2 separate regions of the Homo sapiens genome follow, and region 1 is linked to region 2. A link means that fine-mapping ties the variant in region 2 to the expression of a gene that starts in the linked region. Tissue or cell type: whole blood. Region 2 holds a variant in brackets; the other region holds the start of a gene. All regions are shown on one strand. Distances are from middle to middle.

Evidence for each region. PIP is the estimated chance that this variant, and not a neighbour inherited with it, causes the effect.
Region 1: it holds the start of ASRGL1, and the variant in region 2 is fine-mapped to the expression of ASRGL1 in whole blood (TOPMed, PIP above 0.99).

Annotation. Positions count from the first base shown.
Region 1 is chr11:62,334,898-62,340,047 of GRCh38, forward strand. ASRGL1 (asparaginase and isoaspartyl peptidase 1) reads left to right here and starts at 2,551. Exons shown (of 7, transcript NM_001083926.2): 1 at 2,551-2,677; 2 at 2,993-3,270. The coding sequence starts at 3,081. RefSeq lists an enhancer at 2,462-3,131.
Region 2 is chr11:62,390,990-62,396,139 of GRCh38, forward strand. It overlaps ASRGL1 (asparaginase and isoaspartyl peptidase 1), which reads left to right. Exons shown (of 7, transcript NM_001083926.2): 6 at 533-643; 7 at 1,090-2,423. The coding sequence ends at 1,295. Among named protein-coding and RNA genes, the nearest start is that of SCGB1A1, 25 kb to the right of the region's middle. RefSeq lists enhancers at 3,882-3,951, 4,062-4,111. The variant G/T (reference allele first, on the strand shown) is at 2,264.

The sequences.
Region 1 (5,150 bases), 56 kb before region 2:
AGTTAGAATCACTTCCTTGGGGCTCTAGTCAACCTCCCCAGTCACACAAATGGGTTACTCCTCCCTTCAAAAATCCCTCTAAAATGATAGTAAACAATCTTAAAAAGAATACTACCCACAAAGACAGGAAGAATGGGAGAGATGACAATGGCAGGTAAAAAAGGTCACTTTGGAAGATGAATAACAAATGGCAGATTAAAGGAAGTTGTAATCTACTTGAGAGGTGAATCCATTTGTTCTGGAGAACGCTTGAGAGACTCAGGGCTTAGACACACAGGAATCTCAAAGATGGGGAGGCAGGAGTGGCAGGTGTTCCCAGTTGTCTCTCCAATAGCCTGTCACCCTTCCTTCTTGCCAAGAGACCTTGATTTTATCCAGGGCCATGATGTACCCTGCTAAAATAAAAACTCAGACTCTCTTGCCACTAGGGGCAGCCCCCCAATCCAGTTCTGGCCAATAAAAGTCCACTTGGAGGACTTCTAGGAAAGCTAGAGAGCTTTCCTGAATTAAAGGAACAAAGGGGAGCTGGCAAAAGCCTTCTTCCCTTTGCCCTTCCCCATTCCTTCTGCCCCAATAGTGATCAAGGTGCCTAGGAGCACCATAAATGTGAAAGCCACATGCTGAAGGGAAGAGAAGGAGATGGGACATCTGTGTCACCTTGGAGCTGCTGCACCAGCCTGGGCAGCAACCACTAGATGTCTTGTTGTTGTTGTTGTTGTTGTTGTTGTTATTGTTGTTTTCAAATCAACAGTTATCTGGTTAAACCACTGTGGTCACGTTTCGTCAGGGACAGTTGAATACAATCCTTAATCCATAAAATGATTGTTGATGGAACATCGTCTACAGAGGAGTTAGCCAGATTCCTTCTCCTATCCCACAGAGCCGGACAAAAAGATGCTTCCTCTTTCCTCCTCAAAGACCAGAAGTTTATTTTCTAGAGAATTTATCTAAGAGACTTTGGATTGGGATGGGGAATACGAAGCCCATCAGAGAAGTAGATAAACGCATGAGGCTGAGATGGGAGGATCAAATGGAAACCAACATTCTACCTGCTTGGGCCACCAGCCACCTTCCCCAGCCTCAGCCAGATCACTGAATTCCAGATCAATCAGGAAAAACAGTAGAGATGGGGTTTGAGTTAGGGCTAGGCATAGGGTAGGGTTCAGGTTCCTATAAATAGCTGAAACCAAATGATGGTGAGCTGTATTATGATGACACAACTAGGCTCACGACCAGTTGAGACGTGCTAAAATAACCCTCTTCCAAGAGGTGAGTGTGGGAGACAGAATAACGGCCCTCAAAGGTGTCACATCCGAATCTCCACCTGTGAACACTCCTCACATGGCAAAAGGGACTTTGCAGATGAGAATAGAAATTGTAAGAAAGGGAGATTATCCTGGGTTATCTGGGTGGGCCCAATGTCATCCCAAGGGACTTCCTTTAAGAAGGAGGCAGGAGAGTCAGAGTCAGAAAAGAAAATCGTGATGATGGTGACAGAGAGAGAAGTGACGTAGCAGCAGAAACAGGCCAGAGGGAGAGAGAGTTAAAGATGCTAGGCTGTTGGCTTTGGCAATGGAGGATGAGGCCATGAGCCAAGGATACAGGCAGCTTGTAGAAGCAAGAAAAGACAGATTCTCTTCTGGAGCTTCCCGAAGGAACTCAACCCTGCAGACCCAGTTTGAATTTCTGACCACCAGAACTGTAAGATAATGTGTGTTGTTTGAAGCCAATAAATTTGTGGTAATCTCTAACAATAGGTCACTAGAAAGGGAATGACTGATCCTTAGTGGGGTGCCAGGGAGAAGGCTTTGCAGGAGGGGTTCATTTAAACTGGGCCTTAAGGCAGGAAACGAAGGTAAAACAGGAGTAAAGGGAATTCCCAAGAGTGGTAAAATATGTTATCAGTTGTGGGTAAACAAGAAGGGAAAGGACTCTCCTATCCACAGGAGATCAATCACAGTTTGCCTGGATCTGTCCCTGTTTATGCCCATTGTCCCAGTATAATTTTTTTTTCTTTTGATTCGGAGTTTCACTCTTGTTGCCCAGGCTGGAGTGCAATGGCGCGATTTCCACTCACCGCAACCTCCGCCTCCCAGGTTCAAACGATTCTCGTGCCTTAGCCTCCAGAGTAGCTGGGATTACAGGCATGCGCCACCACGCCCAGCTAATTTTGTGTTTTTAGTAGGGACAGGGTTTCTCCGTGTTGGTCAGGCTGGTCTCGAACTCCCGACCTCAGGTGATCCGTCCGCCTCGGCCTCTCAAAGTGCTGGGATTACAAGGCATGAGCCACTGCGCACAGCCTAGCGTTGCTTTTCAATCTGCAATTACAAAATCGTGGCATGCCACTTCACGCTTCTCGCCACCAACCCAACCACCCAGCCCCTAGCCTGGTCAGGAGCAGGAGGTTCCCCGCGTGCCACCAGGAAGCTCGGGCCGGCCAAGAGCGTAGACTCTTGAGAGGAGTGAGACAGGTGCGCGCCAGCCGGCCTTCGGGGCTTTATGGGAACTGGGCCGTGCGGCGGTCCCGCCCTCGTGCGCAGGCGCAGAACCGTTGTGACCAGAGCGGTTGCGGGCTGAGCGGTTTCGAGCCGGCGTCGGGGAGCGGCGGTACCGGGCGGCTGCGGGGCTGGCTCGACCCAGCTTGAGGTCTCGGCGTCCGCGTCCTGCGGTGCCCTGGGTAAGTCGGCGGCCCTCCCGGAGCAGCCGCCCGAGACGCGGGAGGGCGAATGAAATAAACGAAAATAGACATTTTCCCGAAGGCGAAATAGACATCCTCCTTCGGCGCCGGGGCTTGGAGGCGGGCGGCGGTGGGCGCGGGTTAACGTCCCCGGGGAAACTGAGACCCCCAGCAGGTCCGGGCCGGGGGCGGAGAGGAACGCGGGAGGGCGCCGGGCCCCTGGGCTTTTCGTACCAAGCTCGACCGAGCCGCCCCTACCCACCCCCAGCTGCGAACCCAGCCGTTCAGAACAGAGACTGGGCATTGTCCCCACAGGGTCTCCCGAGGACCTTGTACCCGCGCGGCTTCCTTGGGCTGGCTTTGGACGACGCTTTCGCCTTCCTGCTGCCTAGGATCCGCCGACATGAATCCCATCGTAGTGGTCCACGGCGGCGGAGCCGGTCCCATCTCCAAGGATCGGAAGGAGCGAGTGCACCAGGGCATGGTCAGAGCCGCCACCGTGGGCTACGGCATCCTCCGGGAGGGCGGGAGCGCCGTGGATGCCGTAGAGGGAGCTGTCGTCGCCCTGGAAGACGATCCCGAGTTCAACGCAGGTAAATGTGCCTTTCAGCTAGTAAATAATGTGAGTCAGGTCAAGCTCCTTCTTCAGAATAAATAGAACCTACATAGTGTTAGGGAATCTAATGAGCTTTGGGGTGAAACTAAGTATGTAAAAAAGAAACAATATTTAATTTTTCTACCTGTGCTGAAAAGAGTCAAACGCTAAAATATTTGTAGAGATTTATACTGAGGCAAATATGAGTGACCAATGGCCTCTGATACAGCTCTTGGGAAATCCTGAGAATGTGTGCTTCTGGAGAGACATAAGATGTCAATCAGTACATACAAGACATACATTGGTTCCATCTGGAGAGGTGAGACTACTGGGGGAGGGGGAGTGGTTTCCAGGTCATAGTTAAGATTCAAAGATTTTCTGATGAACAATTGATTTAAAGTTTTGTCCAAACACCTGGAATCCACAGAAGGGAATGTCTGGATTATATAAGGACTTGTGGCTGCAGATAGAATTAATAGAAGGCGGTTTAGCACGGTGGCTCACGCCTGTAATCCCAGCACTTTGGGAGGCCAAGGCGGGTGGATCACCTGAGGTCAGGAGTTCGAGACCAGCCTGGCTAACAGGTGAAAAGCCACCTCTACTAAAAATACAAAAGAAAAAAAAAAAAAGCCAGGCGTGGTGCTAGGAGCCTGTAACCCCAGCTACTCGGGAGGCCGAGGCAGGAGAATAGCTTGAACCTGAGAGGCAGAGGTTGCAGTGAGCCGAGATCACTCCAGCCTGGGCGACAGAGCGAGACTATCTCAAAAAAAAAAAAAAAAACTGAAAAAAGAAGGGAATGTCTGCATTAAGATAAGAGGTTGAGGAGACCAAGATTTCCCTTAGGCAGAGGAAGTCTCCAGGTAGCAGTCTATTGAGAGAATAAATTGTAAATGTTTCTTATCAGAGTTGATTCTCTCCTGAATCAGGAAAAAGGCCTAGAAAAGGAAGGGGATTCTCTTCAGAATGTAGATTTTCCCCACAAGAGATAGCTTTAGCTTTGCAGGACTATTTCAAGATATGGCGAAGAAACGTAATTTGGGGTAAAATACTTCACTTTCAGGGCTTGCTATCTGTCATGTGATGTCATACTAGAGTCCCGCTGGAATTTGGTATCTTATTGCTACAAAGTCTGCTTTGTCAGTCTTAAGATCTGTTTTAATGTTAGTGCTGGTCAGCTGGGCCTGAATTCCAAAAGGGAGGAGGGAATAATGAGGCATGTCCTACCTCCCCCGACAAGGTTCCAAAGTTTTCAGGTTAACTTTGGAGTGCAGAGTGTATTCCTTTGTGTTTCGCTTCTTTCACTCAGTCCACCCTTTTTTGGAATACTAATCATTATAGCTAATATGAGTATCTACCATGTATCAGGCAGTGGTCTAAGAAATTTGCTTGATTTATTGAATCTGAACATTAAATGAGTTGATCATGTAACTCTCTTAAGTTGGTTAACTTGTGTTAAACTAACTCAAGTTAACTCATAATGAACATTAAATGATTCACTTATGAGTTAATCACTTAAACTCAGTTGAGTTAAATGAGTTAGGTATAAGTTAGGCATAATTATTATCCTCATTTCTCAGATCAGACTAAGGCATAAACAGATTAACTTGGTGGAAGACATTCATCTCTTTGTTTTAAAATGGCAAACCTAAGATCTAGGCTAGAGATTGAAATACTTCCTGGAATTATACCACCCATCTGTCAGGGAAAAGAATTTCAGGAAATCTTAATTAATCATCAAATATTTACTCTTGTTCTGTCCCCTTTACGCAGCACTCTTTAACACTTGTGAAAAATTGTGTAATTCTTCCTGAGACCGGTGCAGTGGCTCACGCCTGTAATCCCAGCACTTTGGAAAGCTGAGGTGGGCGGATCACTTGA
Region 2 (5,150 bases):
CCAGACCCCCACTTAAGTGGATAGCCCAGAATAGTTCCCTCAGGTCCAATTATGCCCACCCTCAACAAATATAACTGCCCTCCATTAGACAGTGTGCATGGATGTTAGGTTGTGGGTATCATTTTCCCCAAATCACTGGAACATGATGGCCTTGCTAGAGATCCATATAATGCAGTCATGCTGTTTCTTCCTCCATAGTGTGTGGGGCATGAGGAGGAGACAGGGAGAGGGTGGCTTCATTGAGCAAAAAGGAATGGCTGTGCTTTGGGGCCAAGGAGATGCTGTCCTGCTGTAGCTGCTCTGTGAAAGGTCAGGCCTGCCCCTCTGAGGCTCCCTTTATCCTCCTAAATTCTGGGGCATCTACATGACGCTTTCTAGTCCACCTTTGCCTCCGCAGATCATGGCTACTAACCTGACCTTTGTCGGTACTTGAGCACCCTTCGCGATTTAACTTTCATGTAGCGTCCGACTTCTAATATGGATTTGAATTTCTTGACTGTTACTGCTCAGAACAATCACCCTTTTTGAGCAGGAGCTGGAGGTTATGCCGACAATGACATCGGAGCCGTCTCAACCACAGGGCATGGGGAAAGCATCCTGAAGGTGAACCTGGCTAGACTCACCCTGTTCCACATAGAACAAGGTACACAGACCACAGGACAAGTAAAATAATTTGTGAAGATAAGTGCATAGAAGGTATTTGATAAGTAAGCGCATGGAGAAGTGTAGGAAACCCTTTCCTGTTGGCTACAGATGTTGCTTTCAGGCCGTTAACACCTTGTTTTGACTCTCCGCCTTCCCTTAGGTCTGGAATGGTAGAGCATTGAGTACTGTTATCTTCCACATCTCAGGAGAAGGGGGCAGTAGAGAGACATTGAGCCTGGATGTGGGAGGGAAGACCCCTCTGCTCAGGCTGATGCTAGGGCGCTGTCTCAGGGCAAGGAGGTGAGGACCCTCCTTTTAAGCATTCAGGCGTTCATTTACCAAAAATCCTTGCTAGCTCACTTTGGCATTTCAAATGGCAAGTGATTTTCCCATGAGATTCCTTTCAGTAATGTGTGTTGTTTCTCAACCCTTCCTTGTTTTCAGGAAAGACGGTAGAAGAGGCTGCGGACCTATCGTTGGGTTATATGAAGTCAAGGGTTAAAGGTTTAGGTGGCCTCATCGTGGTTAGCAAAACAGGAGACTGGGTGGCAAAGTGGACCTCCACCTCCATGCCCTGGGCAGCCGCCAAGGACGGCAAGCTGCACTTCGGAATTGATCCTGACGATACTACTATCACCGACCTTCCCTAAGCCGCTGGAAGATTGTATTCCAGATGCTAGCTTAGAGGTCAAGTACAGTCTCCTCATGAGACATAGCCTAATCAATTAGATCTAGAATTGGAAAAATTGTCCCGTCTGTCACTTGTTTTGTTGCCTTAATAAGCATCTGAATGTTTGGTTGTGGGGCGGGTTCTGAAGCGATGAGAGAAATGCCCGTATTAGGAGGATTACTTGAGCCCAGGAGGTCAAAGCTGAGGTGAGCCATGATTACTCCACTGCACTCCAGCCTGGGCAACAGAGCCAGGCCCTGTATCAAAAAAAAAAAAAAAAAGAAAAGGGAAAAAAGAAAGAAAGCAGCAGCATGATCCTGACATGACAGATGTGGGAGACCCACAGCCTGCAGACACTGTGGGCTGGAAGGTGGGAAGGGAGGGGCCGGTGGAGGTGGAGCTGTTTGAAAGTGACACAGCAGCAGTAGAAGCAGTGGTGGGCGAAGCCCAGGTGACCCTCAGAACGTTGCACAAGAACATCAGGGAAAAGAACCAGAATCCTTTAAGGAAAATGTTCTTCATGTATGAGAGACTAAAGTGATTTTTCTAAGAAAGTTCAGCCCTTCTCTGACTTACCTGGACATTTCTAGATACTTCCAAAGGACCCTCTGGGAATCCATAGCTTCCTAATCTGGAGATGGGAGGTCATAAGGGAGACGCTGTGGGGTTCCTTGAAGTTTCTTGGGTTCACAGAGGAGCCCCCTCACTTGGTGTTCTCCCGTGAGCCAGCCTCCACCTGCCAAAGACACTCTGGTCCTCGTATAGTGAGTAATGGGGCTCAGGGCCTCTCCAACAACAGAGAGGAGCTGATGCTGTAGGGCTGACCCCGTGACTTCCTGAGTCCTCACCCTGTCCAGTGCTTTGAGATTCTTCCCACCTCCCCATCCTCACCAGCCGGATCGGGCGCTGTGCAGTGTGGTCAGCATGGTGAAGAAAGTCATTTCCTCG[G/T]TGGGCAGTATTCCTCTTTATCTCTCATTACACTGGAAATGTTATTTCTGCTGTATCATCCGTGCTCAACGTTTTAGTCTGTCAGGCTCACCTTCTCTCTGGAAAGAATTTGCTTAACTTGACATTCCATGTGCCGCTAATAAAATATATTTTGAAAGAATAAGGGTGTGGTTGGGAGTCACTGTTGACAAAGACCAGAATGTACACGAGCTCCCCCCTTGGTCTCAGGTGTACTACAGAGACCTCGAGATGAGGATGGTGTGGAGGGTGATATGTGCCACCTTGTGGAGTACTCGTGAGTTTTTCAGAAGAACTGAACTTTTTCTGAGTGGGTCAAGGAAGAAGCCAAACCATGATAGGGTTTATGGCGCAGTCTTCCTGCAGTTTGCCAGCATTCACCCCAGACAGAGGTGCACAGTAAAAACCTCAACATGCAACAACTCCCCCTTTAGAAACAAGTATTTTATTAGGAGGTGTATTAGTTGAAGATTGCCACAACACGATTCCACAGACTAAGTGACTTAACCAACAGAAATTTATTAATATTTTCTCAGCTCTGGAGGCTAAAAGTCCAAGATCAAGGTGTCGGCCACGTTGGTGTCTCCCGAGGCCTCTCTCCATGGCTTGTGTAATAGCTGGCCATCTTCTCACTGTGTCCTCACATGGTCTTTCCTCTGTACGTGCACAGCCCTGCCATCTGTCTCTATATGTCCTAATCCCCTCTTCTTATGAGGACACCATATTAGATATAATTTATATATTATAATATATAAATTATATAATATATAAGTTACAATATATCTAATATGGTATATTTATTATATATTATAATTTATACAATATATAATATATATTATAATTTACATATATATTATATATAATAAAATATATAACATTTATATAATACATATATATTATATATCATATAAATATATATACTATTATATATAATATATGATATATAATATTATATATTTTATGTATTATATATAATTTGTTATATATTATATACTATATATTATATATCATATATTGTATATATTATATATTATATAAAAATATATGATATATAATTTATAATTTATAATATATATTATATATAATATGTAAATTATAATATTAGATTAAGGTCCACCCTAATGACCTCATTTAACCTTAATCACCTCTTCAAAGGCCCTGTCTCCAAATACACTCACATGCTGAGGTACTGGGGGTTAGGGCTTCAGCATGTGAATTTGGGAGAGGACAGAATTCAGTCCATAACAGGAGGCAAAACAGAATCATGTTGGGGTTTGGAAAGGGGAGACCCTTTGGAGAAGACAACAATCGCTAAGGAGATAGAAAAAAGGAAGGAGGGAGCTGGGGGATAGGGAGGCCAGTTGGAAGATCTGGTTTTGAGCTTGTCTTACCAATTCTCCAGTTCACAAGGAAATTTACTCTAGTTATTAAAGATTACCGTAGGCTCAGCTTGTGGCCACTTGACCTCTTTAGCTGGGCAGCCCAGGTGCTAGGGTACGTATGGGGTCGTCAGCCCCTTTGTGCAAAGCCAAAGTGTGTATTTTTGCCCTCAGACCTGAGTTGTACCAAAAGCCACCTCCACCAGCCTGGGAGTTCTGTAAATGGAGACCACGTACAGTTCTTGCTTTTGCCCCACAGCTTGTCCATGGCTCACTGTCAAACAGAGAAATGAGCCTGACAGCATCTGAAAGGGGAAGACAATCTTTTTATCACTTCTGTGCCACAAGAGGGCAGCAAACTATAAACTATCCATGGCTTCAGCCGCCCAAAGGGAAGGTACTCTATCTGGATCAGAGCAGTCTATTTAGAAAATTTGGAACCAAAAGAACATTCCTCTTCCTGACCTTCATTTTCGTCCAAATACTACAATTTATTTTAGAGCAGAATTGTCCAAAACACAAACGCTAGCAAATGGCCCGAAGAACCCACCCAGATCAACAGTGGAAGCTCGCTCTGCCCTGGGCGCTGCCAGATGCCGGATGCCAGATCCCACGGTGAACAAGCTCTGGCAGCCCGGCCCCGCCCCCACTTGCTCCTTCCAGCCAGGAAGACAGATACATCGTCATGTGGCTCACCCACCAAAATGGTGGGATAATAAGGAGCACAAGACGGGCCCTGAGCCAAGGCCAAGTGTCCCCAAGCAGGAGTTGCTGCAGTCAGGACTCAGCCCCACTGCTGGGCTGCAGAGAAGAGTCCTGGGTAAGGAAGGGCCTTGATCTCGTAGCTGTTGCATAATACACATTTTTCTCAAATAATATTCCTAGACTTCTTCCTCTCTAGCTTGAGGGATTGTAAACTCTGAGACCAAAGGAAGGAGTGGGGCACACGTTAGTCCCCTTCAGTGTCCTGTTGTCAGAGGTGATGGTGTGTGGGGAAGGCTGGGAAGGGACACTCGTTCTTCCCGCCCCCCACCTGCTCCTCTGAAGTCCTCCCATCAGCCTTCATCTTTGCACAAAACCATCACTGCATTTGGATTTTGTAGCTGTTTCTTTTTTTTTTTTTTTTTTTTTTTTTTTTTTGAGATAGAGTCTTGCTCTGTCACCCAGGCTGGAGTGCAGTGGCACGATCTCAGCTCACTGCAACCTCCACCTCCCAGATTCAAGCAATTCTCCTGCCTCAGCCTCCCGAGTAGCTGGGATTACAGGCGCCCGCCACCATGCCTGCCTAATTTTTTTGTACTTTTAGTAGAGACAGGGTTTCATCATGTTGGACAGGCTGGTCTCGAACTCCTGAACACAAGTGATCCACCCACCTCGGCCCCCCAAAGTGCTGGGATTACAGCACCACCGCACCCGGCCTTTGTAGCTGTTTCATGGGAACAAGGAAGTGGCCCCATCAACCTTGTCTGGCTAAAAAAAATGCAGGTGTC